2 linked regions of the Homo sapiens genome follow. The protein of the gene in region 1 purifies or fractionates together with the protein of each later gene. This does not show direct contact. Each region holds a gene or a part of one and is shown on either strand. Other genes may lie near its edges. The genes, in order: GALNTL5 and SCAP.

What was found.
Region 2: the proteins of GALNTL5 (region 1) and SCAP purify together in Homo sapiens (affinity purification with mass spectrometry; one large-scale study listed by BioGRID and IntAct). This does not show direct contact.

Annotation. Positions count from the first base shown.
Region 1 is NC_000007.14:151,969,682-151,973,497, reverse strand, and holds part of GALNTL5 (inactive polypeptide N-acetylgalactosaminyltransferase-like protein 5), read right to left. Parts: exon of another isoform or gene 3,737-3,816; intron 3,000-3,736; exon of another isoform or gene 2,825-2,999; coding exon of another isoform or gene 2,797-2,824; intron 2,554-2,796; coding exon 2,433-2,553; intron 1-2,432.
Region 2 is NC_000003.12:47,427,336-47,431,151, forward strand, and holds part of SCAP (sterol regulatory element-binding protein cleavage-activating protein), read right to left. Parts: intron 1,336-3,816; coding exon 1,178-1,335; intron 333-1,177; coding exon 112-332; intron 1-111. UniProt on the Homo sapiens protein: Escort protein required for cholesterol as well as lipid homeostasis.

The sequences.
Region 1 (3,816 bases):
GGGCAGACATTAAATCTTCTTTTTTTTTTTTTGTAAGACGGAGCTTGCTCTGTCACCCAGGCTGGAGTGCAGTGGTGTGAACTTGGCTTACTGCAACCTCTGCTGGCTGGGTTGAAACAATTCTCCTGCCTCAGCCTCCCAAGTAGCTGGGTCTATAGGCACGCATCACCATGCCTGGCTAATTTTTTTTTTTTTTTGTATTTTTAGTAGAGATGGGGTTTCACCATCCTGGCCAGGCTGGTCTTGAACTCCTGACCTCGTGATCCACCTGCCTTAGCCTCCCAAAGTGCTGGGATTATAGGCTTGAGCCACAGTGCCTGGCCCCTAAATCTTAAAGTTCTGAAATGATCTCCTTTGACTCCAAGTCTCACATCCAGGTCACAGTGATGCAAGGGGTGGGCTCCCAAGGCCTTGGGCAGTTCTGCTTCTGTGGCTCTGCAGGGTACATCCCCCGCAGCTGCTTTCAAGGGCTGGTGTTGAGTGCCTGTGTCTTTTCCAAGTGCATGGTGCAAGCTGTTGGTGGATCTACCATTCTGGGGTCTGAAGGAAGGTGGTCCTCTTCTCACAGCTCCACTAGGTATTGCCCCAGTGGGGACTAGGTTTGGTGTCTCTATCCCCACATTTCACCTCTGCATTACCCTAGTAGAGGTTCTCCACGAGGGCTCTGCCCCCGCAGCAGGCTTCTGCCTGGACATCCAGGTGTTTCCATATATCCTCTGAATTCTAGGTGGAGGCTCCCAAAGCTCAACTCTTGTCTTCTGTGCACCACAGGCCCAATACCACATGGAAGCCACCAAGGCTTGGAGCTTGCAACCTCTGAAACCACAGCCTTAGTTGTACTTTGGTCCCTTTTGGCCATGGCTGGAGCTGGAGTGGCTGGGACACAGGGCACCTTGTCCCAACGCTGCACAGAACAGCAGGGCCCTGGGCCTGGCCAACAAAATCATTTTTCCTTCTAGGCCTCTGGGCCTGTGATGGGAGGAGTTGCCATGGTCTCTGAAATGCCCTGGAGACATTTTCCCCATTGTCTTGGCTATTAACATTCAGCTCCTCATTACTTATGCAAATTTCTGCAGCTGGATTGGGCTTGAATTTCTCCCCAGAAAATGGGTTTTTCTTTTCTACCACATAGTCACCTGCAAATTTTCCAAACCTCAAGTTCAAAGTTCCATAGATCTCTAGGGTAGGGGCAAAATGCCACCAGTCTCTTTGCTAAAGCATAACAAGAGTCACCTTTACTCCATTTCTCAACAAGTTCCTCATCTCCATCTGAGACCACCTCAGCCTGGACTTCATTGTCCTTATCACTATCAGCATTTTTACCAAAGCCATTCAACAAGTCTCTAGGAAATTCCAAACTTTCCCACATCTTCCTCTTTTCTTCTGAGACCTCCAAACTATTCCAACCTCTGCCTGTTACCCAGTTCCCAAGTTGCTTCTACATTTTTAGGTATCTTTATAGCAGTGCCCCACTCCTGGTACCTATTTTCTGTATTAATCCATTTTCACACTGCTATAAAGATTCTACCTGAGACTGGGTAATTGCTAAACAAAAGAGGTGTAATTGACTCAGTTCCACATGGCTGGGAAGCCTCAGGAAACTGACAATCATGGTAGAAGGTGAAGGGAAAGCAAGGCATGTCTTACATGGTGGCAGAAGAGAGAGAGAGAGAGAATGCAGGGGAAACTGCTACTTTTAAAATCATCAGGTCTCATGAGAACTCCCTCACTATCATGAGAACAGCATGAGGGAAACCACCCCCATGATCCAATCACCTTCCACCAGGTCCCTCCCTTGACACCTGGGATTACAACTCAAGACAAGATTTGGGTGGGGACATAGAGCCAAACCATATCAGGTACAGAATTTCAGTTTGGGATGGTGAGAGAGTTCTGGAGATGGATGGTATCGATGGCTGCACAATGTGAATGTCTGTATTGTACATTTAAAGAGGATTAAAATGGCAAATTTTATGTTATGTGTATTTTATCACATAACAATGATTATGTTAATCATTAACATAATAATTATTAATGCAACAATTGAAAGAACAATTTTTTTGAAAAAAGTAAATTTTGGGGAATAAAAAGTAGCTGTCCAGAGCATTTTCTATCAGGAATGAATGCCCCTTTGGCCAGAAGCCCTTATTGGTGATTTAATAAAAAGATCTGTGGGTAACTCAATTCTTGGAAGCCTCTAGAACACATTTTGTGCCCACGAAGAAGACATTCTCTACACTATAAGCATTAGAATCTTGAAATAGAATCTTGACATTATCTGACTTCAAGTCCTAAAAATAGGAATCTATAACATTTCTAGTATGATCAAATTAAAATCTGGTTAGTAACTGTTTTCTTTCTATCTATCTATCTATCTATCTATCTATCTATCTATCTATCTAGAGAATGAGAGAAAGAGAGAGACAACATACATTTTACTCCTGGTATCTGGCACTTCTCTTTCGATGCCCAAGCTTCTACTGATAATCACATTAAATCCATATTTTAAAAGTTCTTTATGAAGTTCTGGGTTTGTATGGTTAAAATCTGTACCTGCAAGAAAATGTAATTAGAATCATATAAGTAAAGGCTTACTAGCAGTGATGCAGGAAAGGAAAGATCTAGAATAACCAAAACAATTTTTTAAAAGAACCAGAATAGAATTCGGAAATCGATCTGTGCAAAAATGGTCAAATAATTCTTGGCAAAGGTGGGTGTTTTAGTACATTTTGCATTGCTATAAAGGAATACCTGAGGCTGGGTAATTTATAAAGAAAAGAGATTTATTTGGCTCACAGTTCTGCAGGAAGCATTGAGCCAGCATCTGCTCCTGGTGGGGGCCTCAGGAAGCTTCCAATCTTGGCAGGAGGTAAAAGGGAAACAGGCAGGTCACGTGGTGAGAGAGGGAGCAAGGAGCGGGGGATGCCAGGCTCTTGAAACAACCAGCTTTCCCATGAGCTAATAGAAGGAGAGCTCATTACTGTAGGCAGGCACCAAGCCATTCATGAGGGATCTGGCCACGTAACCCAAACACATCCTGCCAGGCTCCACCTTCAACATTGTGGGACAAATTTCAACATGAGACATGGAGGGATAAATATTCTGATTGTATCAGTGGGGAAAGGGAAGTTTATCAACAAATGGTGTTGGATCATCTGGATTATCTGTAGAAAATAACCTATATGTGATGGTCCATTTTCAATTCTAAGTGGCTTAGTATAGGTTTAAGCAGGCTACATGGAAATAGGGAGATAAAGAAGCAGAATGTACTGAGCCCACCCCCACCCCCCGCCCCTTCCTGCTTTCCCTTTCACCCAGCGGCCAGGCGTCTATTGGTGGGGGCCCCCCCAACTACCCCCTCCCCACCCACCAAAGAATTCAGTTTTGGGGCCGGGTGCGGTGGCTCACGCCTGTAGTCCCAGCACTTTGGGAGGCTGAGGTGGGTGGATCACGAGGTCAGGAGATCAACACCATCCTGGCTAACACGGTGAAACCCCGTCTCTCCTAAAAATACAAAAAAAAAAATAGCCAGGCGTGGCGGCTGGTGCCTGTAGTCCCAGCTACTCGGGAGGCTGAGGCAGGAGAATGGCGTGAACCCCGGAGGCGGAGCTTGCAGTGAGCCGAGATCGTGCCACTGCACTCCAGCCTGGGCGACAGAGCGAGACTCCATCTCAAAAGCAAAACAAAACAAAACAAAAATTTAGTTTTGTTTAGCTTGCAACATAGGTAATTGTACCCTTTCTTATCAGCTAAGTGCAGCCACTAGGGCCATAAATCAAATGTTTGAAGAGTCCTGAGAGAGTTGCAATGCATTGT
Region 2 (3,816 bases), on another chromosome or scaffold:
CCCCCACCCTGGGAAACAAAGGGTAAACCCTGATCTGCCTAAGCACACATCAAAAAGACGGTGACCAATGGGCACCTTTACAGGTCTGAAGGGAACTTGTACTGGGGCTACCTTTGAGTGTGGCTGAAGTCTGCAGGGTTTTAGGCTCGTGCTGGTGGATGGTCCCAATGATGTCAGGATCAGCATGGAAGCGTTCCCAGTCATTCTGCCAGAAGTTCCCAGGGGACAGCAGCAGGCATCCATGCTCAGGGAGTAGGTTCCTGAGCTTCCTAAGGCCTGGCAGCAGGTCGGTCACTTGCAGACACAACTCCTCCAAGCTCCTGATCCCAGAGCTGCACAGGAGACAGGACAAGGCACCTGCTGTGTCTGCCACCACAGGGCAGACCTGCTGTACTTAGGGGACATCCTCTGTCTGTTCTTCAATGCCCCATATTTGCTCTCTGGTATCGCCAAAGAGCCTGACCACTAGGGCAGCAGGGGGAAGTACTTCCAGGTGGCCAATAACCTAAACATGTGGCTGTCTGACTTTCAAAGTGCATCTGAAGCCCAAAAGCCCATCAGCTCTGAGGACGGGCAAGTGTACTATAAGAGCATGCACAACCCCACCCACTAAAACACCCTGGCCAGTTCAGTGGATGAGCAGGGACCGGGGTAAATTAGGGGCTTCATTTAGTTCACCAAAATATCTGTCAACGCCACTAGCTAACTAAAACCTGGCAGTGATGCAGCTTGCCAATTACACACATTGTATGCCAAGCCAGCATAACCCAGGGACCCACTGATAGGCAGGGGAGCACGACTTGGGCTGGGGCTTCAGAAGGTACCCCCAGGTAGAGCTTGCTTCTCGTCGGCAGAGACACCACCATTACATTCACACCATAACCCACAGGCAGGAAGCCATGTGGGTCATGAGTTAGCACAGTGGACACTGACTCCATCTGAGATGTAAGGATGAGACTCAAGGCTATGTGTGTGCCATCTGCATAGGTCCAAGCGGAATGCAGCCACCGTAGACCCACAAGGATGCTGAGAAATTCAAGGCTAGCTCACCCTCCATCCTTCTTGCTTGTTCTATCTCTGCAGAGCTGACTGGCTCACTGCAGTTACACTGAGGACTGTAACTCTCCCTTCAGTACAGAATGGGATTCAGGGAGGCCAGGGTCCCTGAGAGGGGTACCTGTCTCTCAGCACGTGGTTCCGGATCTCCTCCACCAGTTGGAATGCCCGGGACAAAGGTGAACGAAATACATCTACTGCCAGGAGGTTCTTGTGCCAGGGAAACACTGAGGACTTCACAAATATCTGCTGGACATAAGCCACCGGGGCACCCACATACTGCAGAAGAAATGAGGGAGGGCAGAAAGGGCAGCTGAGCACAGGAAGAAGAAAGACGGTCCAATTCAAGGGATTTAATGGGCATTGGAAACCGTGCCCCACAGAGTTAAAGAAACCAATGACTAATACAAGTTCTTGAGTTTGCAGGATGGCAGATAAGAAAAGAAACAATTTGCTGAAACCCAGAAACTCCCTCCGCTTATGAGATAAAAGAACTGGCTGAAATAAGCTGGAACCAAGATGGCCGACTGGAGTTGTGCAGAATGAGCTTGCCGATGTCACAGCCTGAATTTCCACTGCCATGTTTCATACTAACTCCCCCCGGAATTTGCACATGGGACCTGTGAGGTGGCATCAAGAGATAACTGGGCATGCTCAAAGACTTCCCAGAAATCACCCTTCCTTCCATCAATCATCTGCTAATCCTAGTATCCACCCTCTAAACCTTTCCTAATAAAATTACTGCCTTAAAGCCAGCACAGGGAGACAGATTTGAGCTGGACTCCGGTCTCCTAGGGAGTCAACCTTCAATATAAAGCTTTTCTTTTCCCCAAATCCTGGTGTCACAGTATTGGCTTCTAGCACATTGGGCAGCGAGCCTCTTTTGCTCAATAACACATCTACTATGGGCAAAGCACTGTGGGACCAGGTGTAGGCAAACGATGGCCTGTAGGCCAAATCAGGGCCCATGCCTGTTTTTCTTTTTGAGACAGGGTCTTGCTCTATTGCCCAATCATGGCTCACTGAAACCTCAATCTCCCAGGCTCAAGAGATCCTCCCACCTCAGCACCCCCACCCACCAAGTAGCTGAGACTAGAGGTGTGTGCACCACCACCACGCCTAATTTTCAAAAATGTTTTGTAGGGACAGGGTATCACTATGTTGCCAGGCTGGTCTCGAACTCCTGGGCTCAAGTGATCCTCCCATTTTGGCCTCCCGAAGTGCCACACCTGGCTAACTTCTTTATTTTCTGTAGAGATGGGGTCTCACTATGTTGCCCAGGCTGGTTAGTGCCTGTTTTTCCACTTCCAATTTTTACTGAAGCACAGCCACACCCCTACCATTACTATTGTCTATGGCTGCTTTCACTCTACAACAGCAGGGTCAAATGGCTGCAACAGAGGCCGTCTGGCCCGCAAAGCCTAAATGTTTACTATCTAGCCCTTTATGGAACATGTCTGCTGACCGCACTATAGACTCTACACTCCCCAAAGCATGTAACCTGTCTTACTGATTCAGGTTTTGTCACTTGCAGCAGAGTAGCGGGTTTTGAAGATCAAAGGACCCAATTTTAAATCACAGCTTTCCAAACATATGGCCTTGAAAACACTTTTGACATCTCTGGATTTCAATTTCCTCATTGTGAAACAGGAATAACGACATTCACCCTGCAGCATCAAGATGTATGCACACACCACACACGCATACAAACAGTGTCTGAAAGATTAGCAGAAATATTAACAATGAACAATCAGGCATTTCACTTCATCTGACCCTCACAACAGCCTGATGAGAAGCAAGGAGAGGCTCAGGCATTGTGCCTGCCTAGAGCTTCACACTCCAGGCAGGGTGGTGTAAGGACTCAAACCAAGGTCTCCTCACTAAATATCACATACTTTTCTCACTAGAATCTGCCATCTACCTTTCAAGAGCTTAACAGGGATGTAAATGACAAGAGTGTTCACATATGCAACCCTCAGTAACAGGCATGTCGCGGAGCACCCCAAAACATGCTGGGTCAGCCACAGCAGAGTTATGGCCCAGGAGAAGCTGAGTAGAGCCATAAGGTTAGAAAAGAACAGGTAGGAGAGGAGCAGGAGGGAATGTGAGTTGCAAGGGATGCTGAGAGCACAGAAGGCCTGGACATCTGCACCAAGGAAACCTGTCAGGGGATAACAGAAATTACGAGGAAGATGACAAGCAGGCTTAGACTGAAGCCTGACTGAGCTGTCAGGATTTTAATCAGTTGACAAAGCAAAGCCCAGTGTCTCTGAGGTGAAGGGGCAACCTGATGAAAGCAGTGCTCTGTAAAGACTCCCCGGGAGTTGGTGACAACTGGAGACAAGGAAACATGGCCCTAGACAGCGGTGTACTGCGAGGTGTGGACTGAAGGGGGCAGGGCCCAGCCCAGCTGAGGGATGAGGGGCTGTCTCCACGCCTGGGCTGCAGTCGGGAACTCCAAGGGGCATGCGTGTGGATGAAAGGGAGGCCATGGAGCCACTCACCAATGCAGTACTCCAGGTTACAGCATAGGCAAGGGCCAAGATGCTGACCAAGCACAGCAAGTTAATGCCTCCTGGGACCCTGGGCACAAAGGAACAACCAGAGGCAACCGTCTGAGCCTTTGTGAACTTTATGTGGCTGTGCCTTAGTGAGGGCTCTGGGGACAGAAGGCCTCATCCACTTTGTCTTCTGTATCACGCTCAGCCACTAGAAGCTGCTGGGAGGCACAGAGGCACCTGGATGGAGCTGGCTGCCACA